Linked DNA regions of Homo sapiens: regions 2 and 3 are each linked to region 1. Evidence: fine-mapped expression QTL. A gene starts in region 1. Each other region holds a variant in brackets. All regions are shown on one strand. Distances are between the middles of the regions.

Region 1 (8,181 bases):
CTATACACCTTTTTTTTTTAAGATACAGGGTTTCACCATGTTGCCCAGGCTGGTCTCAAACTCCTGGGCTCAAACAATCCGCTCACCTCAGCTTCCCAAAGTGTTGGGATTACAGGTGTAAGCCACCACACTGGGCCTGACCTATACACTTATAAATGGTTAAGATGGTAAATTTTATGTTTACATATATATATTTATATATGTATATAGTTTGAGGCAGGGTCTCATTCTGTTGCCCAGGCTGCAGTGTAATGGTGTGATCATGGCTCACTGCAGCCTTGACTTGCCAGGCTCAAGCGATCTTCCCACCTCGGGTTCCTGAGCAGCTGGGACTACAGGCATGCATTTCCACACCTGGTTAATGTTTTTTTTTTTTTTTTTTGTAGTAGAGCTGGGGCTCCACCACACTGCCCAGGCTTGACTCAAACTGGCTCAGGTGATCATCCCATCTTGGTCTCCCAAAGTGCTGGGATTACACACATGAGCCAATGTACCTGGCCTATATTATATATTTGTTTACTACAATGAAAAAATTTTGGCTAGGCGCAGTGGCTCACACCTGTAATCCCAGCACTTTGGGAGGACAAGGCAGGGGGATCATGACGTCAGGAGTTGGAGACCAGCCTGACCGACATGGTGAAACCCCATCTCTACTAAAAATACAAAAAGTAGCCAGGTGTGGTGGCACACGACTGTAATCCCAGCTACTCAGGAGGCTGAGGCAGAATTGCTTGAATCCGGGAGACGGAGGATGCAGTGAACCGAGATTGCGCCACTGCACTCCAGTCTGGGCAACAGAGCGAGACTCCGTCTAAAAAATAAAAAATAAAAAATGTTTAAATCTGGTCTTTTCCTACTATACCACATGCCATAACAGTATAAAAATATGGGTAATCTGGGCAACAGAGCAAAACCCTGTCTCTACCAAAGATACAAAAATTAATGGGGTGTGGTGGCACACGCCTGTAGTCCCAGCTACTAGGGAGGCTAAGGTGGGAGGATCACTTGAGCCCAGGAAGTTGAGCTTGCCACTGCACTCCAGCCTGGGTGACAGAGCAAGATTCTGTCTCAAAAAAAAAAAAGGGTAAGCAAATAACTTATTCTGCAGGATGGGAGAGAGGAGCGGAAGGGCACAGCATGGAATAAATTAAAAAAAAAAAAAACTAAGAAAAGAAATATTTGAAAGATGAAGGTCCCCATTTTATCCTCACTATAGCTCCAGGCAGGGGGTCTCTACTTCAACTTCTGAAATAGCTCCCACACCTATATACAACCATCAGTTACCACAATAACCTGCCTTGCTTTTGTGGCTCCAGAATATTCCAGCAGCCTTGTATCTGGTGAGCTTTTTTTTTTTTTTTTTGAGATGAAGTCTCACTATGTCACCCAGGCTGGAGTGCAGTGGCGTGATCTCAGCTCACAACCTCCACCTCCCAGGTTCAAGCAATTCTCCTGCCTCAGCCTCCAGAGTAGCTGGGATTACAGGTGCTTACCACCACGCCCGGCTAATTTTTGTATTTTTAGTAGAGACGGGGCTTCGCCATGTTGGCCAGGCTGGTCTCAAACTCCTGACCTCAGATGATCCACCCGCCTCGACCTCCCAAAGCACTGGGATTACAGGAATGAGCCACTGTGCCCAGCCTCTGGTGGGCTTTTCTAGGCTCCTCCCATTCTAAGTCATTCAGCACTGGAAACAAATTAAGTTGCCTAAATTGCCTCATTTATCATGCTAAAGAACTTCTGTGGCTCCCTATTATTCTCAGAACACTGATTATCAGGATGGGTGTTTAGGAACATATCATCTAACCTCTCTGAGCCTCAGTTTCCTCATCCATATTAAGAAATGAGTCTTGAAGCATAACTCAAAAGCTTGAGGATTAAAGATAACATATGCCTTGTACCGTACTTTTTCTAAAGGTTATGTGCTCACTAAAAGTTAGTCCTCTTTCTGCCTGTCTCTACACACCCAGCTCGGTAAGGTATCTTAGCTTAAGAAGGAAAGAGCAAGTATTTCTAGGATTTTTTTTTTTTTTTGAGACAGGGTCTCACTCTGTCAATCTCCGCCTCCCAGGCTCAGGTAATCCTCCCACCTCAGCCTCCCCACAGGCACACACCACCACCATGCCCGGCTAAATTTTTGGAGACACAGGATTTTGCCGTGTTGCCTGGGCTGGTCTCGAATTCCTGGATTCAAGCGATCTGCCTGCCTCGGCCTCCCAAAGTGCTGGGATTACAGGGTCTTAAGTCAGGTCTTAAGAACACAAGGGGGAAAAAGGCTGCTCATCTATGGTTGTGTGATGGCCAGGAAAACATTTCTCACTCACAACTGCTCCTTTCGTCCACAGTCCTCCATACACACAGACCCCCTAGCCTTTATTTTATTCTATCCTTTTCGTCATTTGAGGAAGTGATATTCAAATTAAATTTAAATAAAGTTACACTGTGAAAAGTCTCACTCCCATTTTCTCCCCCTTTAGCCCAATTCCCACCTCACTCCCACCAACCACTTTATCAGTTTCTTGAGTATCCTTCAAACTTTTTATGAAAAAGCTGTCTTTAAATAAAGCTAATGTTTTACAGGTGTTAGCAAGGTTCGGGGTGGGGGAGGGTGGAAGAAGTAGTGGACTAGGTCCTATTCAACCTGGTTTACCCTAAAGCAGTGTCCTTCGCTCACTCAAAAATAACAATAATCATATGTTGGGCACCTGTTATAAGTCAGATGCTTAATATTAACTACCTTCAGCCCTTAGTATGCACCAGAAATGCACTAATGCTTTACACAATTGCCCCCTTTGATCTCCACAACAATCTTAAAAGGTAGGTTACTAATTCTCATCTTCATCTTACAAGTGAGGAAACTGAGGCACAGAAAGGTCACCTGCCCAAGCAAGAGAGAGGAGCAGGGCTTTGAACCCAGGCCTGACTCCAGAGTCCCTCTTAACCGTGACGCTCTACACTAGCAAACCAGATATAGTCTCTGCACCCGCTGGAACTCAGCCTAATGTGGGAGACGGGCGAGAAAAAGGCAGACAACAAAGAAATACGAAATTATAGACTAAGAAAGTAATGTAAACGAAACGAATTCGCGGCTGTGACAGAATAACAATGGGGACCTACTTTAGAAAGGGGAAGGAAAGAGTGTCAAGGAAAGGCCTGAGAAAATGACATTTATGAAATGCTCGGGAACCATTTGGGGGCTGCAATGATGACCCCCTCCCCCACGCCCAATACACGGGATAAACTCGAGGCCCACAGAGGCTAAAACAAACACGACAGGGTCCCCCAGACGTGTAGACGTGGCGCAAAGAAGGGAGGATCCAGAAACTGGGCCCAGGGTTCGTACACGCCATCAGTGTCCACAGCAGCCCAGCCCCGCTCGGCCCCTGACAAGGGACATCAAGCCAGCTGCTTCCCACGGCCCCGCTGCAGCTGAGAGCGTCCGGGCAGCTCACAGGGAGGCCTTCCGGCCAGCCAAAAGGGCTTTGGCCCGTCCAGCGGCGGCCTGGAAAGGCCTCTTCCCCGGCCCCCCGCCAGCTCCCGCCTGGTCCGCCCCGCCCCGCCCCTCCTGGTCCAGCCTCGTACCTGCACCGCCCGGACCAGGCCCCGGCCGGTCAGCTGGCCCTGCCGCAGCTGCAGCAGAATGTTACCAGGCCGCGGCCGGCCGCCCCATCCGCCCCAAGCCGCCACTGTGGCTGCCGACCGTCTCCCTCGGCCGGCTCCAGACCCAGCCGCTACCGGCGCCGCCGCCATGTCTCCTCGTCGGACAAACAGGAAGCAAGCGGCCTCGGGGCCGCGGAGATTTCTACGGGGCGGCGGAGGGGTCGCCGCAGCGCCCCCAGTGGGCCGTCGGCGGAGGCGCAAGCCGCGTGGCAGGGACCGTGTGCGGCGTGGAGGCTACTGGGAATTGTAGTCCTGCGCGGCAGCGGGGTAGGTGGGAAAAGAGATGTGGCCTTTCCTGCACTGCCGGTTTCTCTGGCCCCCGGGCCCAGCATTTCGGCGAAATCTCCCAAGGTCCACATTCTCCCATTTCTCTCGCCGATTTGGGCAGGATGCAGGCAGCTGGCCAAGAAATGATCCTGGGCTTCAGGTCAGGAGTCAGGCCCTCGAGTCCGCTTCCTGCCTGCTTCTCTCTACACGTGACTCACCGCGGACATCGACCAAGTCATCGCGCTCTGCCACTGCGCCTGTGTCCTCGTCAGGTCACTCCATCTATAGATTCTGGGAGCCTGATCAATCGTAGTTCCTGGGGCTTTCTCTGCGCCCGACACCAAACCATGTCTAGGGGAAAGGGAGGGTGTCTGGGATACAGTGGTGAGCAGAACGGCCTGGGATCCTTTATCACGAAATGCAGGTTACAGGGGAAGACAGCAGATCCATACACAAAGAAACGCAGTCTCAAACTGGATAAGTTGTGTAACTGGGTAGGTTGTTGTGAAATTAAATAATGGAAGGGAAAGGGATTAGTAAATTGTGACATCATATTCTCTGTCAGATGAAAACCCTGTCCTAATTTCTATCCACCAGATAGCATGTTGTCTCTAATACTCATTTTTTCAGCTAACTTCTGTGGCAGGATGGCACTGACTCCCCCCACCCAACACACACACACTTTTTCCCTTCCTAGCAGGGGGCCTGTAATAAAAATGAAAGAGGAGAGCTAAGTGTGATGTAACAGGGAATGGTGAAGATTGTGACTCATAACTAAGATGACTGTAACTTACTGCTCAAACCAGAACACTTTAAAGAATGAAAAGACACAATAAATAATTACACCGGGACGGTAGGCATAAAAGTGACTCTCCCAGGTGAACTGGCACTATGGTTACCATCCTCACACCCCATCTAAAAGGAGTAGACTCACCATCCATCTTCATAGAACTAGAAAAAAGAATCCTAAAAATCATATGGAACCAAAAAAGAGCCTGCATGTCCAAAGCAAGACTAAGCAAAAAGAATAAATCTGGAGGCATCACATTACCTGACTTCAATCTATACAATAAGGCCATAGTCACCCAAACAGCATGGTACTGGTATAAAAATAGGCACATAGACCAATGGAACAGAATAGAGAACACAGTATAAAACCAAATACTTATAGCCAACTGATCTTCGATAAAGCAAACAAAAACATAAAGTGGGGAAAGGACACCCTATTCAACAGCTGGTGATAACTGGCAAGCCACATGCAGAAGAATGAAACTGGATCCTCATCTCTCACATTATACAAAAATAAACTCAGCCGGGTGCAGTGGCTCACACCTGTAATCCCAGTGGCTCACACCTGTAATCCCAGCACTTTGGGAGGCCGAGGTAGTCAGATCATGAGGTCAGGAGTTCGAGACCAGCCTGGCCAACATGGTGAAACCCCATCTCTACTAAAAATGCAAAAATTAGCTGGGCGTGGTGGCATGCACCTGTAGTCCCAGCTACTTGGGAGGCTGAGGCAGGAGAATCACTTGAACCCTGGAGACAGAGGTCACAGTGAGCCGAGATCACGCCACTGCACTCCAGTTTGATGACAGGATGAGACTCCATCTCAGAAAAAAAAAAAAAAATAGCCAAAGAAGTTACAGTCAGGAGATATTTTGTTCCCTATAGAAACTGAATATAACATCTTAAAATTTGTCCCTGAGTGTTGTTTCTTAGAAACTCGAACCCCCACCAAATGGATCTGCTGATAGGCAAACTCAGATAAGGGAGAGCTGAGAACTAAACTTTGACTTCTATTTTTTGTTATAAATTTCTTCCTAGGGGGCCTGGAGGAGGACACGACCATAAGTCAGAGCTAACATTCTTTTCTGCAGATCCCAAATTTTTAGACAAAGCTTTACCTCCTTAACCAATTACAAGTCAGAAAATCTTTGAATCCACTTGTGGGCCCCTGGTTGGAGATGTCCTGTCTTTTTAGGTGGAACCAATATACAGCCCCTATGTATTGATTTATGACTTCGCCTGTGGCCTCTGCCCTCCTGCCATTAAAAACCTGTAAGCCGGCTGGGCGCGGTGGCTCACACCTATAATCCCAGCACTTTGGGTGGCCGAGGCAGGTGGATCACCTGAGGTCAGGAGTTCGAGACCAGCCTGACCAAAACGGCAAAACCCCGTCTCTACTAAAGATACAAAAATTAGCCAGGCATGGTGGCACGTGCCTGTAATCCCAGCTACTCGGGAAGCTGAGGCAGGAGAATCGCTTGAACCCAGGAGGCAGAGGTTGCAGTGAGCTGAGATTGCACCACTGCACTCCAGCCTGGGCGACAGAGCAAGACTCTGTCTCAAAAAAATAAAATAAAACCCCTGTAAGCCATAAGGGAGTTCAGGTCTTAAGCATAAGCTGTTTGATTCTCCTCGCTTGGCACCCTGCAGCAAGTGCAATAATAAATGCCTCACTTTCTCTTGCTGTAATCCCAATGTCAGTGGCTTTGCTGCACCAGGTAAGCAGCCCTCACTTTGGTTCAATAACAATACTTTTCATAACTTTTTGCACCAGCTATGTATCATTTCTAGATTCAAGAAAAAAAAGTCTTCTAATATGTGAAATTAACTTTAAAAAGACATAAAAAGAAAAGGCATTTCCAGGGATACAAACAGGGCATTGGTGAGCTGTCCGGGCAGCAGCCAGCCTTACCAGGGAATCCACAGCCCAGGGATTCCACCCAGAGCTCTTCCTGAGGCATATGGTGATGGATATTCTCACCCTTGTCGCGGTGAGGAGACAGGATCCTGACTAATTTCACAGTTCACATGGCCCTCCAGGTTTCCCTTGGCACTCATCATGCTAGGGACAAATCTTCCCACCTCAGCTTTGACCCAACTGCAAATGTCACTTTCCATTCCTCAGTTCCTATCTTTGTCAGTCTAGCCTGGCCCAGGCATTCACCAAAGCTGGGTATTCACTGGGTCAAAAATGACAACCTCAAATTCAGTCCTTACAGATACCATGTGACCATGAAGTAAGGGGACATGTTTCCAGAAACCTCTGTGGAAAGACACTCTTTTCCACTTCACCTCTGCTCTGCCAGCCTTTTCCGTAGAAACTAGCTGAGGCTAGGCGCGGTGGCTCAGGCCTGTAATCCCAGCACTTTTGGAGGCCGAGGCGGGCAGATCACGAGGTCAGGAGTTCGAGACCAGCCTGGTCAATATGGTGAAACCCCGTCTCTACCAAAAACACAAAAATTAGCTGGGCGGGGTGAAGCGCGCCTGTAGTCCCAGCTGCCCTGGAGGCTGAGGCAGGAGAATTGCTTGAACCCGGGAGGCGGAGTTTGCAGTGAGCCGAGATCGCGCCACTGCACTCCAGCCTGGGCCACAGAGCAAGACTCTGTCTCAAAAAAAAAAAAAAAAAGCTGAGTGTCTCTCACCACCAGAGGGCGAAGTACCTCTCCCACCAGAGGTCTGTTGATGTCAATTTTAATCAGCACTAGAAAAAAAATGAAGCTCCCAAACTGGCTAATTTTTTTTCCACCGTAATCCCAAATGGCTTAACCAAACATGATGATGCTATTCAGAGAACATTAACTCTTGTAAATAAATCGCCAAACTCATCTCAATTGGGCAGACAGATTTTCTGGGACTTTTTTTTTTTTTTTTTTTTTTGAAGTCTTGCTCTGTGGCCCAGCCTGGAGTACAGTGGTGTGATTATAGCTCACTGCAGCCGCCAAGCTCCTGGGCTCAAGCAATCCTCCCGCTTCAGCCTCCCAAAGTGCTGGGATTACAGGCATGAGTCATGGCACCCTGCCAAGAAGTCACTTTAATCAAAGCAACTGGCACTGTTATATCAGGCCATGGTAACAGCTGTCCCATGCAACTATGCATTGTCCTGTGGTGTCATTTTTTACAGTGATTTTTTTTTACATTACATTTCTAATGTACAACCTCTCCATGATTTGTCTTTTAAATGTTTGTTAAGTACTATCTTATGTGCCAGGCACTGTTATAGGTGCTGTGGATATTGTGCTAAATAAAATAAACAAAATTTCCTGCCCTCATGGGGCTTATACTTCTGGGTAAGATCTACCCTTTATTGAGCACTTACCATTGGCCAAGCACTTTCTTTGCACTATCTTATTATTCTCGCAGCATTTTTGGGGAAGTTTTTCAAATCTACAGAAAGTTAAAAGATACACCATTAACACTCATATACCCTTTGCTTAGACTTGTCAGCTACTAAAACTATATTTTATCTTT
Region 2 (8,181 bases), 57 kb before region 1:
TCTTTTTTTTTTTTTTTTTTTTTTGAGACAGAGTCTCGCACTGTCGCCCAGGCTGAAATGCAGTGGCAGGATCTCGGCTCACTGCAACCTCTGCCTCCCAGGTTCTCGCCATTCTCCTGCCTCAGGCCTCCCCAGTAGCTGGGACTACAGGCGCCTGCCACCACGCCCAGCTAATTTTTTGTATTTTTAGTAGAGACGGGGTTTCACCGTCTTAGCCAGGATAGTCTCGATCTCCTGACCTCGTGATCCGCCCGCCTCAGCCTCCCAAAGTGCTGGGATTACAGGTGTGAGCCAACGCGCCCAGCCCTTTGATCATATTTTTAATGGCTGCTGTTAAATCTGGTATCTGGACCCTTTCACAGGAAATTTCTGTTGCCTGCTTTTTCTTGTGTATAGGTTACACTTCCTGTTTTTTGTGTGTATGTCTCAATTTTTGTTAAAAACTGGACATTTTAGGCTGGGTGTGGTAGCTCACGCCTGTAATCCTAGCACTTTGGGAGGCCAAGGTGGGTGGATTGCCTGAGCTCAGGAGTTCAATACCAGCAACTAGGTAAAATCCTTTCTCTACTAAAATACAAAAAATTAGCCGGGTGTGGTGGCATGCACCTGTAACCCCAGCTACTCGGGAGGCTGAGAGAGAACTGCTTGAACATGGGAGACAGAGGTTGCAGTGAGCCGAGATTGTGCCACTGCCCTCCAACCTGGGCGACAAGAGACTCCATCTCAAAAAAGGACATTTTAAGTAATATACTGTAGCAACTCTGGATACTGATTCCCCCTCCTTCAGGGTTTGTTGTTGTTATTTGCTTATTTATTAGTTTAGTGACTTGGTTAGACTATTTTCGTAAAGTCTCCTTCCCCAAAGACTGGTGAAGATTTTCATGTTGTGCCTCAGAGAGTGCAACCTTGGGCATGTACAGAGTCTCCCTGGGATGACATTGAGCCAGGCTGTCTTTGACTAGCTCTTTCCATGATCTCTCTGTTAAGCTTTCTACCTCTTCTGGTATCACATCCAGCTGTTAGGCTCTACTAACTGCTGACTGAATTCTCGACTGTTTTTGATAATGCCCTGGAGTATACACTGCTCCAAAGTCTAATTCAATTAAATTCAGGAAGGGGTAATTTTTGAAATTGAGCTTTGTTCTGACCTTGGGAGAGTTCTTCTCAGCTGTCTCCTTCCCTGGTTCTCTGGTGAACTAGCTGGCCTGTAGATCACCCTGTTCTTAATTAAGAAGAGGGTACCTGGCCAGGCACAGTGGCTCATGCCTATAAACCTGGCACTCTGGGAGGCCAAGGAGGGTGGATCACTTGAGGCCAGGAGTTTGAGACCAGCCTGACCAACATGGCAAAACCCGTCTCTATTCAAAAAAGAGAAAATATAAAAAATAAAAGAGTAAAGGCCGGGCGCGGTGGCTCACGCCTGTAATCCCAGCACTTTGGGAGGCCGAGGCGGGTGGATCATGAGGTCAGGAGATCGAGACCATCCTGGCTAACAAGGTGAAACCCCGTCTCTACTAAAAATACAAAAAATTAGCCGGGCGCGGTGGCGGGCGCCTGTAGTCCCAGCTACTCGGGAGGCTGAGGCAGGAGAATGGCGTGAACCCGGGAAGCGGAGCTTGCAGTGAGCCGAGATTGCGCCACTGCAGTCCGCAGTCCGACCTGGGCGACAGAGCGAGACTCCGTCTCAAAAAAAAAAAAAAAAAAAAAAAAAAAGAGTAAAAAAAAAGAAGAGGTACCTCTTTTTATTTGCTTACCATCAAAATCTCCTCAGGCATGAACTTCCCTGGACTCTGTTCTTATTAACTGCCTCTCTCTGTGGGCAAATTCTCAGAGCAGGGTCAGTAGCCTCTAGTCTTCCGGGCTTGCCTCTCCCAGTGTAAAACCTCTGTACATGAGCAAGCTAGGGCAAAGGTGATCAGAGCCATAGAATTCTTGGCCTCAAGTATGTGGGATAGAGCTTCCACACCGTGAGTACAGTATGGAGCTGGGTGGAGGAAGGAAGCCTCTGACCTCTTTGCCATACTCACCGAGAACTTAGTCTCTTCAATTTGGAGCTGGAGGGAAGAAGAAAAGCTGATGGCCCCCCACTCCCAATGAGAAACCTATTCCTTGTTTGGGAGCTGAGAATTCCTGGGTTTGTATATTCTGAACCTGCTGGCCAGAGTCAAATGCTTTAAGGCTGGGCACCTAACCAAAGATGGGCCAGAGTTCTTTACCAGGAAGCTGGAGCTGAGACTGGGAGTCTTCTTATTTAATAGGCAGTCTTCTGCCTAGTCCCATCAAGGGGACCAGGAAAAGGTAGGGTACAGTGAGAGAGAAGACTAAGAAACACTGTAGAAAGAAAAAGAGACGAGGAGAGAAGTTTCTAGGTTCCTAAGAATGCTCTGGTTACTGGTTCTTGTTAGTCCCTGAGACACAGCTGTCTCAGGTCTGCAACAAAGCCCTTCTCCCTGAAATCAGGTCCACTTTGGGGAGTTCAATGAAGTTTCTGTAACAAGCTGTCAAAAGAGTCTTAATAGTCATGGTCTAGAATTGCCTTGAGGACAATTCTACTCTGAGCAAATCTCAAATTAATCCTTCTTGGAAAGAAGAGCAAGAATGGTCCCAGGCGCCCAAGGAAAAGCTCCCGATCACTCAGGGGACCCATCCTTCCATACCTTGATTGTGCTCTGACTCCTCATTGGCCACTCGCATCAGGGCATCTAGCACCAAAGCATTGTCTAGCCATGTGTACCACTCTTCCAACTCCTGAAGGAAGCTGGCTGTGCCCGTTGACTCTGACACCTTTCGAGTCGCCAGTTTGCAAAGCCGCTCAACAAAGCCAGGAATGCTGAGAAGGGCCGCTGCCAGGGAAAGAACAAGCGAGGAAATTTTCAAAATAGAGACCAGCAAAACTACCCCTAAAGCCCTAACAAACAATCTGCATGATAGGAATAATTCTTACTCTGATAGTAGCTAAAGCTACTCTTTTAAAATGAATGTCAAACCAAGGTAAATAGTAATTATGTTACAGGCATAAGCTCAGTTTTTAGCAGGTACAGGGAAACAGGCTTTTTATCTACTGGGAATATAAATTAGAATAATCTTTATGCCTTAAATGTGTGTGTCTTTGAGCCAAGAGGTCAATTTCTGGGAATTTACCATAACGAAATAACCAGTCATATTACACGAGAATATCTGTATAAGGAGGTTCACTGATGTGGTTTCTGTAACAGCAAAAAGGTGAAGGTAACTAAATGTTCATCAACAGCTGATTAATTAAATACAATGACACATTTATACAATGGAATACTGCATAGACACTAAGAATGATGACACATACATCTTTATATAGTGACTCAAAACAGCTGTTTACTTGT[T/TAGAGAA]AGAGAGTAAATTATTAAACAATATGAATTTAATTTTCTTCAAAAATTTAAATATTTGCTTCTTCAAAATACACAAGGAATGAAAGCATATATACCAAGGAATTTACTGTGGCTGTTCCTAAGCAGGAGAGAATACAAACAATTCTCTTAAAATTACTCATCTATAGTTTCTAATTTTCCTGTAACATTTACTAGCAGGATGAAAGATAAACATTTTTTTAAGGTAAAGAAAAAAACTGAATAATCACCCAATTTTTCTTTCCACCAATCTCATTTTATTCACAATGAGTGAGGTGGAAATTCTGATCGGCATATTAGAACATCATAAACTTTGGAGGCAGGGAGATCCAGATTCAAATCCTGACTCCATCATTTAACCTTCTTTAAAATGAGACTAATGCCTGATCATGTTTGCCTGTATATGCATTAAGTCTCCCTGGAAGGACAGAAAAGAAGCCAAGAGCAGTGGCTGCCACAGTAAACAGCCATAAGATGGAAACAGCCAAAATGTCCGTCAAGTGGAAAAGGGGATTTAGGTCACTGAGAGTAACAGTGGAACTGAAACTTTTCAATAAATACCTTTTTGAATCCGCAGATTTTTTGGAACCATGTGAATGTTACACCTAATTAAAAATTAATAAATAACTAGATATTTCAGGATATCAAGGGATTACTATTAATTTTTGATACAGTGGCAGTTACGTTTCTTAAAAGTCGTTATCATGTAGAAACACTGAAATATATGCAGGTGAAATTATACGATGTCTGGGGTTTACTTCAAAATAACCCAAGGTGAAGTAGGGTATAGTGAATGGGAGTAGAGATAAAGTAAGACAAGCTGGCCAGGCACGGTGGCTCATGCCTGTAATCCTAGCACTTTGGGAGGCCAAGGTGGGTGGATCACTTGAAGCTAGGAGTTTAAGACCAGCCTGGTCAACATGGCGAACTCCATCTCTACCAATAATACAAAAATTAGCCAGGCGTGGTATCGTGCGCCTGTAGTCCCAGCTACTCAGGAGGCTGAGGCATGAGAATTGCTTGAACCTGGGATGCAGAGGTTGCAGTGAGCTGAGACTGCACCACTGTACTCCAGCCTGGGCAAGAGTGATACTCTGTCTCAACGCGTGCGCACACAAACACACACACACACACACACCCCTCCCATAATTAGTGAGTGGCTATAAGATGATGTTTGACCTTAGTTATAAAATAAAACTACATTGAGGTTCCTCAAAAAGTTGGCCAGGCACGGTGGCTCACGCCTGTAATCCCAGCACTTTGGGAGGCCGAGGCGGGTGGATCACAAGGTCAGGAGATCGAGACCATCCTGGCTAACACGGTGAAACCCCATCTCTACTAAGAAGTACAAAAAATTAGCTGGGCGCGGTGGCAGGCGCCTGTAGTCCCAGCTACTTGGGAGGCTAAGGCAGGAGAATGGCGTGAACCCAGGAGGCAGAGCTTGCAGTGAGCGGAGATCGCGCCACTGCACTCCGGCCTGGGCGAAAGAGCGAGACTCTGTCTCAAAAAAAAAAAAAAAAAAAAAAAGTCAAACATAAAATTACCATATGACCCAGCAATTTCACTCCTACATATATACCCAAAAGAATTGAAAACAGGTGCACACACAAATATGTGTACACACATGTTCATAGCAGCACTATTCCCAACAGCCAAAAGATGAAAATATCCCAAATGTCCATTAACTGAAGGGATAAACAAACTGTGGTATCTACATGATGAGTATTATTCAGCCATATAAAGGAATGAAGTACTGACATGCTACAACATTAATGAACCACAAAAACATTATGCCAAGTGAAAGAAACCAGATTCAGAAGGCCACATGCTATATGATTCCATTTACAGTTATGCACTGCATTAACGCTGTTGCGGTCAACAACGACCACACAGAAGACGGTGGTGCCATCAGATTATAATACTGTATTTTTACTATACCTTTTTTCTATGTTTAGATACACAAATACTTACCATTATGGTACAACTGCCTACTGTATTTAGTACAGAAACATGCTGTACAGGTTTGCAGCCTAAGTGTATCATGGGCTATACCAGCTAGGTTTGTGCAAGTACACTCTATGACATTCACACAATGACAAAATCACCTCACTGCATTTCTCAGAAGGATAGAGACTGCTAAGTGACAACATGACTGTATATGAAGTAATCTGAATAGGTAAATCCACAGAGAAAAAAGCAGAATGGTGGTTGCCAGCAGTTGGGGAGAAGGGGTAATGGGAAGAAGCTGCTTAATGTGTACGGCGTTTCCTTTTGGGGTGATGAAAACGTGCAACTAGATAGAGGTGGTAGCTGCACAACACTGTAAATGTACTAAATGCCGCTGAGTTGTTCACTTTAAGACGGCTAATTTTATGTTACGTGACTTCCATCTCCATAAAATAATTACACAGAAATAGATTTTTGTTTGAGACACCATTTTTTTTTTTAACATATCAGCTTGGCAAATATAAAAAAGTTTGATAATGCTCTGTACTGGGAAAGGCTACAGACAACACGGTGGGGAAGATGAACAAGTAATTTCTTTGGAGGGTTAATTTGTCAACACTTACCAATTTCCATTAATGGGGGACTAATTAAATTACAGTATGCCTGTATAATAGAATATTATATAATTACAAAAAGGAATCATATAATTCTATATATACTAGAGTGTAATTTTTGGCAAGATAAGTTTAATAAAAAGAGAGCAGCACTTATTTTATATTACCTATTTACATTACCATCTGTACAAACAGGAGTCAATCTCTCTCTGTCCCTCCCTCCTTCCCCCGTCCCATGATTGGGCATGTATAGAATATTTTTCGAAGGACGTTTAAGAAACTGGTAAAAAGTTACCACAGGGAGGGGAACAAACTCTCTGCTGTACTTTTTGTATCATTTAAAAAAAATTTTAGGTGTGTATTATTTTTTCTAAAAACAAATCAGTAGGCGGGGCATGGTGGCCCATGCCTGTAATCCCAGCACTTTGGGAGGCCGAGGTGGGTGGATCACCTGAGTTTGGGAGTTCAAGACCAGCCTGGCCAATATGGCAAAACCGATGTCTACTAAAAATACAAAAAAATTAGTCGGGCCTGGTGGCGCATGCCTGTAGTCCCAGCTACTTCGCAGACTGAGGCACGAGAATCGCTTGAACCAGAAAGTGGTGGTTGCAGTAAGCCAAGATTGTGCCACTACACTCCAGCCTGGGCAACATAGCCAGACTGTGTCTCAAAATAAAACAAAGCAAAAAAAACAAAAAAGAAATAAAAAGAATTTGTATTCTACATGAAAATCTTCACATAGCTGGATTTTTACTCTTATACTTCTGTTCTCAGCAAAAATAGCTCCTGCTGCTTGACCTGCTCCTCTCAGGACAGCATGTAGGAGCTAGTCTTCCCCATTCCTGCACACTCAACACACTCCTCCAGATGGGAAGTGCCCGGTACTCAGGGTTCTAAGTCTGACTTCCCACCTGAGATTCTTGAGCTGTTGTGAGTCACTCACCTCTTGAAAAGCTAATAAAAGCTAAGACCTTCTCCCCAGAAAAAAATTCACTGGACCAATCATACCTAGCAACTCATACACAATCTCATGGGCTGACATCCCAGCATATCCAGTCCTTGTAATTCTCACAGCTTTATCAGTAGCTACCACACCTGGCTGGTTAATGTTAAACTGACAACTAAATCACTCACAACCCCTGAGAATTTCTGCAGAAGCAGGCCTCTTCTCTCTTCTCACTGTTGAAACATCAGTATTCCCCCCATACTCCTGTAGTTTCCCCTCCTGCTTTCCAGCTTCATGTGCTGCATAATTCAGCCCCTCTCAGCTAAGTGTCACTTATAAATTGACAATTATCTAGCCTATAGCTTCATTTACATCTCTGCTAAGAATCTTGAAAGACGTTACTTTCCCCCAGAAGGAAACCAGCTGTTCTCTTCTAAATCGACAGAAGAACAACTGGTAGTTCTGAGAATCTCAAAAAGGACTCAAAAAATAATTATTTATTTTAAAATGAATCTCAAAAAATAATGACTTACGCTATCTTCCTGGGGCTCAGATAATTTACATTAGATAATTACATGTAAATTATCTGAGCCCCAGGAAGATAGTGTAAATCATTATTTTTGCTAGACAAGAAAATGACCTCACAGCCACAGTTTATTAAAAACGAAACGAAAACTTTTTGGCAACATCCTACATATTTCAGCTTTCCATACAGTTATGGACTGTGTCCCCACCCCCCGCGCCCCCACAAATTCATACGTTGAAGCTCTAGCCCTAAATATGACTGCGTTTTGAAACAGGCCCTTTAGGGAATGCGGTGGTGTGATGGTTAATTTTAGCTGTCAACTTGACTGGACTATGGGATGCCTACATGGCTGGCACAGCACTGTTTCTGGGTGTGTCTGTGAAGGTGATTCCAGAAGAGATTGGTGTATGAGTGTGTGAACTAAGGGAAAATCTGCCCTCAATGTGGGCAGGCACCATCCAATTGGTGGGGGAGCAGTGGGAGGCGATGGAGGAAAACAAAAAGGGATTCTCCCCCTTCTGGAGTGGGAAGTTTTTCTCCTACTGCTCTTGGATATCAGACTCCAGGATCTTTGGCTTTTGGTCTCTGAGACTTGCACCAGCAGTTTCTGGGGTCCTCCAGCCGGGGAGCTACACCATTAGCTTTCCTGGTTCTAAGTTTTCCGGACTTGGACTGAGCCATGCTAATGGCTTCTCAGGTTCTCCAGCTTGCAGACGGCTTATCTTTTATTTTATTTATTTATTTTTGGAGACGGAGTTTCACTCGTTGCCC
Region 3 (8,181 bases), 980 kb after region 1:
TGGGTGTGGTGGTGGTGCATGCCTGTAGTCCCAGCTACTCGGGAGGCTGAGGTAGGAGAATTGCTTGAACCTGGGAGGCAGAGGTTGCAGTGAGCTGAGATAGTGCCACTGCACTCCAGCCTGGGTGACAGAGTGAGACTCCATCTCAAAAAAAAAAAAAAGTTATTGTAAAAAACTCCTGCTCCTTAAGAGGGACGTAGGATGTTTGTCTGCTTCTTGGGTAATGGGAAATTAACTTGGATAGAGCTCATTCCTCATTCTCTATTTCTGCAGCTATAAAATTGGGCCAATAACCTTAGCCCTCCTTATTGTCTCAGGAAAGCCCTGGGTGAGGATGCCACTGAGCCCGCCTGGAGCCAGGAGCTGGTCTGCAGAAACTGCTGGGCCTGTTTCTACTCTGATGTTTACTTGGCCTGGAGGCCCAGTGTGATGAAACCCGGCCCTGTTGCCGAGCACCTTGGGAAGCCTCCCTCCAGGGTCCCTCTGTGCTCAGACAGTGGCCCTTTGTAGAGTGGAGGAGCAGACTGAAAGCGGAGCTGCTGGAAACCGTTTCCTCCCCTCTGCCTCGAGCAACCTCCTCCCGCAGCCACAGACCATCCTGTGCCTGGGTGGCCTCTGCTTTAAGTCTGCAGCTGGCGGGGTAAGATAGGGTCTCTAGGCAGCCTGCTAGGCTGGAAGGGTGAGGAGGGGTCCTGGCAGGATGGCCAGCTGAAACACAGCATCCCCTAACTCAATACAGATCACTTATAACAGGGCTTTCCAAAGAGGAGACTGGCCCCTTACAGGCAAGATTGACATTTCACCATCCCCTGCCACCACTCAATAAGCGCCTAAGATTTAGGCTAGAAGTGATGTGGTTTGTCCCTTCTGTCCCTACTTCACTGGCCCCTATACTCACTAGCGGGGGGGATTGGGAATCCTTAGACATAATCCCAAACCTGGTGGAGTAGGAGTTCAGTAAGTGGGGAAGAACTAGGAACAAGAGGAAAGAAGGTTTAAGAGTGTGGTATAGGCTGGGCACGGTGGCTCATGCTTGTAATCCCAGCACTTTGGGAGGCTGAGGCAAGCGGATCACTTGAGGTCAGGGGTTTGAGACCAGCCTGGCCAACATGGTGAAACCCCATCTCTACTAAAAATACAAAAATTAGCCAGGCATGGTGGCGGGCGCCTGTAATCCCAGCTCCTCAGGAGGCTGAGGCAGGAGAATCGCTTGAACCCGGAAGGCAGAGGTTGCAGTGAGCCAAGATGGCGCCATTTCACTCCAGCCTGGGCGACAAGAGTGAGACTCCGTCTCAAAAAAAGTGTTGTATAGGTGAAAGGACACTTAACTGGTCTGGGGGGCAGGAAGCCTGGGATTCCATTTCTGCTGAGCTACTGACTTGCTGGGTGACATTAGCTAGTTGTTTCCCTTTTCTATGCTTCAGTTTCCCAGCTGCGAAACTGTGGAGGTGGAGTAAATAAATGTTAAGGATTTTTGCAGTTCTAATTTTTCCCAATTCTTTGATCAGAAGGAGGAAAGGAAAGCTGGGGGTGGGTTGGAGGTAAATAACTGGCAGGATGCCTTCCATGGATTCACCTGCAGTCTCCAGGCAGCTTCTTCTCTGCCACTAAGATCTCTTCCCCTTCCGTTTCTCCCCCTCTTCTTTCCACCCCACTCTGAGGGCTTCTTGTGATGAGATCTAAAAGCTGTCTTACTTACAATTGCTTATACTGTCTTTTGCCCACAAAGGGAGGAGACTGTGCACAATCATGGAGGGCAGTGGCAAGTCTGGTGGAGAGGGAAGGAGGTCAGGAAATAAACGAGAGAGGAAAATTAAGAGGTAAGGATGTGATAGAGGGAAGTATTGAAAGAAAGCTCAGGGAGAGTGAAAAGGAAGGAAAAGGGGAGAGAGAGGAGGTAAAAGTGAAGGAAAGAGGTTGAGTGCAGTGGTTATTCCTGTAATCCCAGTACTTTGGGAGGCTGAGGCAGGTGGATGACTTGAGGCCAGGAGTTCAAGACCAGCCAGGGCAACATGACAAAACCCCATCTCTACAAAAATACAAAAATTAGCGGGACATGGTGGTGTATGCCTGTAGTCCCAGCTACTAGGGAGGCTGAGGTGGGAGGATCACTTGAGCCCAGGAGGTCGAGGCTGCAGTGAGCCATGATGGCACCATTGCACTCTAGCCTGGGTGACAAAGTGAGATCCTGTCTCAAAAAAAAAAAAAAAAAGAAAGAAAAAGAGTGGAATGAAATGGAGAATAAGGAAGGTACAAATGGGAGAGAAAAACAGGAAAAGAAACCATGGGAGAAAACCAGAGCCTGGGCAAACGAACATGCAAGTGGAGACATAGTGTTTTCTAGGACAACAAAACACTTTAGTTTGGCTAGAGCTAAGAGTGTGGTAGGTAGACAAAATTAGAATCAGATTGTAGAAGGTCTTGGATGCCAGGTTAATGATTTTGAACTTTATATTTTTTATTTTCCTTTGTTCAAATCCCCTGTGATAAGTTGTTTTATTTTGTTTAGAGTGGGTATCAGGCAGATTTCTGGGTGAGGCCCAGAGGAGCATTTTTATTCATCCATCCATTCAACAAGGGACTATGTCTTATCCAACTTGTATCCCTAGAGTATAACACAACATCTGCATATAAGACAGAAAGTAAGTGCTTGTTAAAATTAAGCATTTTGGCCGGGTGTGATGGCACACATGTGTAATCCCAGCACTTTGGGAGGCCGAGGTGGGTGGATCACCTGAGGTCAGGAGTTCAAGACCAGCCTGGCCAACATGGCGAAACCATGTCTCCACTAAAAATACAAAAATTAGCTGGGCATGGTGGCATGCTCTGGTAATCCTAGCTACTAGAGAGGCTGAGGCAGGAGACTTGCTAGAATCCAGGAGGCGGAGATGCAGTGAGCCAACATTGCGCCACTGTACTCCAGCCTGGACAAGAGAGTGAGACTAGGTCTCAAAGAAAAAAAAAAAATTGAGCATTTGGAGAAAGCAGTAGTTGAGACAGTCTCACAGAGAATATAAGAATAATCATATTAAAAGGTAAAAAGTGCTAGGTGCCCAGAGAGAGGCCCAGAAAAGGGAGATCAGAGGAGAATGAGACAGCCTTCCCTGCTACCTTTAGCAGAAAAGTCCCAAAGAATATTATAATGGGGCCATCTTGGCTACTTGAATTAATCCTTGTGGCCTGAAAGATACATTCTGTTGGAGGGTATAGGGTTCTGTCTATCTTCTGAGTGAAGGGCAAAGAGTTCTCCGAAGAAAAGGGAGGGATTATTACTGGAAGAAGGGAAATTAGAACTGGCATGTCTGCCAGGTCTGCTGTAGTGGAACAAGGTGAGGCACATATAGGGAACAGTGAGAAGGATTAGGAGCTCTTCAAGAGTGGTAACAGTTAAAAATAGAGCTACAGGCCAGGTGCAGTGGCTCACGCCTATAATCCCAGCACTTTGGGAGGCTGAGGTGGGAGAATTGCTTGAGCCCAGGAGTTTAAGACCAACCTGGGCAACACAGTGAAAACCCGTCTCTACACAAAATAAAAAATTAGCCAGGCGTGGCTGGGCGTGGTGACTCACTCCTGTAATCCCAGCACTTTGGGAGGCCAAGGTGGGTGGATCACCTGAAGTCGGGAGTTTGAGACCAGCCTGATTAACATGGTGAAACCCTGTCTCTACTGAAAACAAAAAATTAGCCAGACGTGGTGGCATATGCCTGTAATCCCAGCTACTTGGGAGGCTGAGGCAGGAGAATTGCTTGAACCTGGGAGGCAGAGGTTGCAGTGAGCGAGACTGCACCATTGCACTCTAGCCTGGGCAACAAGGGCGAAACTCTGTCTCC[A/AAAAT]AAATAAATAAATAAATAAAAAGAAAGAGAGAGAGAGAGGTGCACCATGGAGGGCCTCAAATACCAAGTTGTGGAGTTTGAACTTGTCTCTTGAACTGAGAGTGCGCTTGTTGAAGTTGTGCTTTGGGAGTACTAATCAGGCCACCAAGGTATGGAATGGACTGGAGGCGAGAAGACCAGGACTGATGGGAAATTGTTCTGGCATGTCCTCTGGTAAAGCCTAAGCATGAGATCCTTCACCCACATCAATGTGTTTTCCGTTGTAACTTGGTTTGGTTTTTTTGTTGTTGTTCTTCTTCCCATTCTAGGTCAGTGGATTCAAAACGATGAAAGTGGATTCAAAACCTCTGTCAAGGGGTGCTGTCCTTTCCTGGCCAAGTCTCTTTTATTCTCTTAGGGCTGCAACCTCTTCACCTGGGAAATGAATGGTCCTGTGATTTACAAGAGCAGGTAAGCACCTGCAAAGGGCTTTGAAGATTGATGGGCAGAGTTTCCAGCTCAATTTCTGGGGAGTGGCAGTATCAGCAGCACCCCGTCCCTGGCTCTGACATAACGATGGGAGAAGCAGCTCCAAGGCATCCTGCTTTTTTTTTTTTTTTGAGACAGAGTCTCGTTCTGTTGCCCAGGCTGGAGTGCAGTGGCACGATCTCAGCTCACTGCAACCTCCGCCTCCCGGGTTCAAGCAATTCTCCTGCCTCAGCCTCCTGAGTAGCTGGGATTACAGGTGTGTGCCACCATACCTGGCTAATTTTTGTATGTTTAGTAGAGATGGGGTTTCACTATGTTGGTCAGGCTGATCTCGAACTCCTGACCTCGTGATCCTCCCTCCTCAGCCTCCCAAAGTGATGGGATTACAGGTGTGAGCCCCTGCGCCCAGCTGGCATCCTGCTTTTGAGCAGGAGGTGGCCCAGGCCGTAGCCCAGAGTCAACTCTCTCCTCTTCCCAAATATCTCCACAAAGGAAAACTCTGTAGCATAGCCTAAGAGGGAGCATAAGACTTTGAAGTCAGACATCCCAGGCCTTGGTCCTCAGTTGTGCTTCTTCCTAGCTCTGGTATTTTGAATAAGTTATGTAAGTTACCTGAGCCTATTTCCTTGTATATAAAATGGGGGTTGCAATACTAATTTCCTGGGCTCGTGAGAGTAGAGTAAGCTAAAGCTAAAAAAGCACTTGGCACAGTGCCATACAAGCCACAGGCACTCGGCCAGTGTGAATTCCTATTCATTTTTTAAGAAACAGAGTCATGTACTGTTAGAGGTAGAGAGGTGTTAGATATTCCTGGTCCAATCCTCTCATTCTACAGTGGTAAAAGGACTCCCAGGAAGGTTTCCTCTTAACCAATCTAATTCTCTTCTGTCACAATATCTGCTGATTCTGTCCTCAACTAGAAGCAGAGAACTGAGCTCCACCTTCTATGCTTAGCTACATAAATCCGATGGGAGTTCTATACCTGTTCAAAAAAGGGTATTTTGGTTCCTCCATTTTTCCCCCCAAGAACATTTGCCTATCATTTGCTCTTTGCTCTGCTAAAGGTGAAGACAATTAGTGTCCCATACTCAAAGTGATCACGAATATGTGGGAAGATCATGAGCAACACAGTATAGATGAATCCTAAGTAAATCCAGCAATCTTGGAATATCTGAAGGAATTTGCTCCCAATTATTCTTAGATAAGCTAAGAAATGAATACAACTGTTAGTTATCGTGTTTGTGTTTTTGTTTTTACTCTGCTTAATTTTTTAACATTTTTATTTATTTCTATAATTATAGAAATGGGGGGGGGGGGTCTCACTATGCTGCCCAGGCAGGTCTCTAACTCCTGGGATCAAATGATCCTCTTGCCTTGACCTCCCAAAGTGCTGGGATTACAGGTGTGAGCCACTGTGCCCAGCTTCTGCTTAATTTTTATTTCCCAGTTGGCAGGGGCTCCCTAATTCTTTAGCTTTACTTTTTTATGGATAAAATATACATAGCATAAAATTTATCATTTTAACTATTTTTTGACAGATAAACAGTTTCTTTATTCCTCCTCATCCTCCTCCTCTTCTTCATCTTCCTCTTCCACCTTTTCCTGGGCAACTTTAGCAGGACCATTTGCACCATCAAACTTTCCTTTTGCCTTATAGTCAGAAACATCCTTCTCATACTTCTTCAGCTTTGCCGCCTTAGTGAAGTAAGGCTGCTTTTCACTGTCATTTAAGCTATTCCACATTTCACCCAACTTTTTTTTTTCTTTTGCCACGTCTCCAATAGAGATGCCAGGGTTTGTGGATTTGATCTCGGGGCAGAATTCTGAACAGAACAGGAAGAATCCAGACAGTAGCCTTTTGGGGCATTAGGATCCTTCTTGTTGCCTCCTTTAGCTGGTCCATAATCCTTCATTTCCCGATCATAGTGTACTTTATCCGCCTTTGCCATTTCATTGAATTTAGACTTCTCTTTCCCAGACATGGTCTTCTACCTCTCGGAGCACTTCCTGGAATATTCTGCAAAATTGACAAGGACCTCTGGGTTTTTCTTCTTATGTTCTTCTCTGCACATCTGCACAAAGAAGGCATAAGCAGACATCTTTCCCTTTGGTTTCTTGGTGTCACCTTTAGCCATCCTGACTGAATTTCTTCTTCCTTCCCGGCCGCCTAGCAGGAGGGAAGGCGGAGGGGAGTGAAGGGCGTGGGGAGGAGAGGGAGGGCCCTGGGAGGCGAAGCAGCAGGAGGCGGCGACGTGGCCCGAAAGTTCTGCAGGCGCTGCGGTGGCGGCCCCATTTTAACTTTTTTTTTATTTTTTATTTTTTGAGAGGGAGTCTCGCTCTGTTACCCAGGCTGGAGTGCAGTAGCGCGATCTCGGCTCACTGCAAGCTCTGCCTCCTGGGTTCACGCCATTCTTCTGCCTCAGCCTCCCGAGTAGCTGGGACTACAGGCACCCGCCACCACGCCCGGCTAATTTTTTGTATTTTTCGTAGAGACGGGGTTTCACTGTGCTAGCCAAGATGGTCTCAATCTCCTGACCTCGTGATCCGCCTGCCTCGGCCTCCCAAAGTGCTGGGATTACAGGTGTGAGCTACCACACCCGGCAAACTTAAAAAAAATTTTTTTTTTGAGACAGAGCCTCCCTCTGTCGCCAGGCTGGAGTGCAGTGGTGCGATCTCGGCTCACCACAACCTCCGCCTCCCGGTTTCAAGCGATTCTCCTGCCTCAGCCTCCCGAGTAGCTGGGATTACAGGCACGGGCCACCACGCCCAGCTAATTTTTGTATTTTTAGTACAGACGGGGTTTCGCCATGTTGGACAGGCTGGTCTCGAACTCCCGATCTCAGGTAATCTGCCAGCCTTGGCCTCCCAAAGTGCTGGGATTACAGACGTAAGCCACCACACCTCACCCATTTTAACTATTTTTAAGTATACAATTCAGTGACATTAAGTTCATTCACAAAGTAGTGTAATCATCACCACTTCCTATTTCCAGAACTTTTTCATCATCCCAAACAGACACTCTGTACCCATTAAACAACATTCCCCATTTTCCCCTTCCCTCAGCCTCTGGTAACCTCTATTTATTTTAATTTCTGTCTCTACGAATTTACCTATTCTAGATACTTCATATGAGTGGAATCATACAACGTTTGTATTTATTTTTGTTTGTTTGTTTGAGACAGAGTACAGTGTTGGGATCATAGCTCACTGCAGCCTCAACCTCCCAGGCACAAGTGATCCTCCCACCTCAGCCTCCTGGGTAGCTAGGACTACAGGCACACACCACCACACCTGGCTAATATTTAAAAATTTTTTGTAGAGACGGTGAAACAGGAACCCTCGAAGGGTGTGCAATGGGGGTGTGGCTTGCTTCTTCAGTGCCCTGCTGCTCAAACCTCTAGGGGAGCATACAGATGGGCAGGCTGTGGGGCTCCGACCCCACAGCAGTGTCTAGGGGTGAATGTTTACAGCTGAAGCCCCAATGGGCGTGTGTTATAGGGTGCTCTTTTAGGTTGCCATCTATAGGCGGCTTGTGTTAACCAGCTCAATTAAACCCCCTTCCTTACCACAAGGACAGAGGGATTTCTGTATCCTGGGGTTTCTTGCCTTGTTGTACCTGGAAGAACTGGATCACATGTGGGCTTGGAGAATGAGTGCAAGGTTTTATTGAGTAGAACTAGCTCTCAGCAGATGGGGGAGTTGGGGAGCCAGAAGGGAAATGGTTTTCCCCTGGAAATGTTCTCATCATGTTCACCAACATGGTGAAACCCTGTCTCTACTAAAAATATTTTTAAAATTAGCTGGGCATGGTGGTGTGCGCCTGTAATCCCAGCTACTCAGGAGGCTGAGGCAGGAGAATCACTTGAACCGGGGAGGCAGAGGT

Which allele goes with the higher level. Positions count from the first base shown, and alleles are read on the strand shown. Sizes are in standard deviations (SD) of each study's normalised expression. Not every link is listed here.
As copies of T replace TAGAGAA in region 2, the expression in unexposed skin of the gene that starts at base 3,776 in region 1 goes up (small effect, 0.12 SD a copy in GTEx).

The links. PIP is the estimated chance that this variant, and not a neighbour inherited with it, causes the effect.
Region 2: its variant is the best candidate, but not a certain one, in a credible set for the expression of TRPC4AP in unexposed skin (GTEx, PIP 0.57).
Region 3: its variant is the best candidate, but not a certain one, in a credible set for the expression of TRPC4AP in cerebellum (GTEx, PIP 0.55).

What each region holds. Positions count from the first base shown.
Region 1 is chr20:35,089,032-35,097,212 of GRCh38, forward strand. TRPC4AP (transient receptor potential cation channel subfamily C member 4 associated protein) reads right to left here and starts at 3,776. Exons shown (of 19, transcript NM_015638.3): 1 at 3,583-3,776. The coding sequence starts at 3,750. RefSeq lists an enhancer at 1,462-2,021 and silencers at 3,548-3,677, 7,311-7,440.
Region 2 is chr20:35,032,466-35,040,646 of GRCh38, forward strand. It overlaps TRPC4AP (transient receptor potential cation channel subfamily C member 4 associated protein), which reads right to left. Exons shown (of 19, transcript NM_015638.3): 8 at 2,658-2,843. Among named protein-coding and RNA genes, the nearest start is that of MIR499B, 46 kb to the left of the region's middle. The variant T/TAGAGAA (reference allele first, on the strand shown) is at 3,360.
Region 3 is chr20:36,070,169-36,078,349 of GRCh38, forward strand. It overlaps the pseudogene HMGB3P2. Among named protein-coding and RNA genes, the nearest start is that of NORAD, 23 kb to the left of the region's middle. The variant A/AAAAT (reference allele first, on the strand shown) is at 3,831.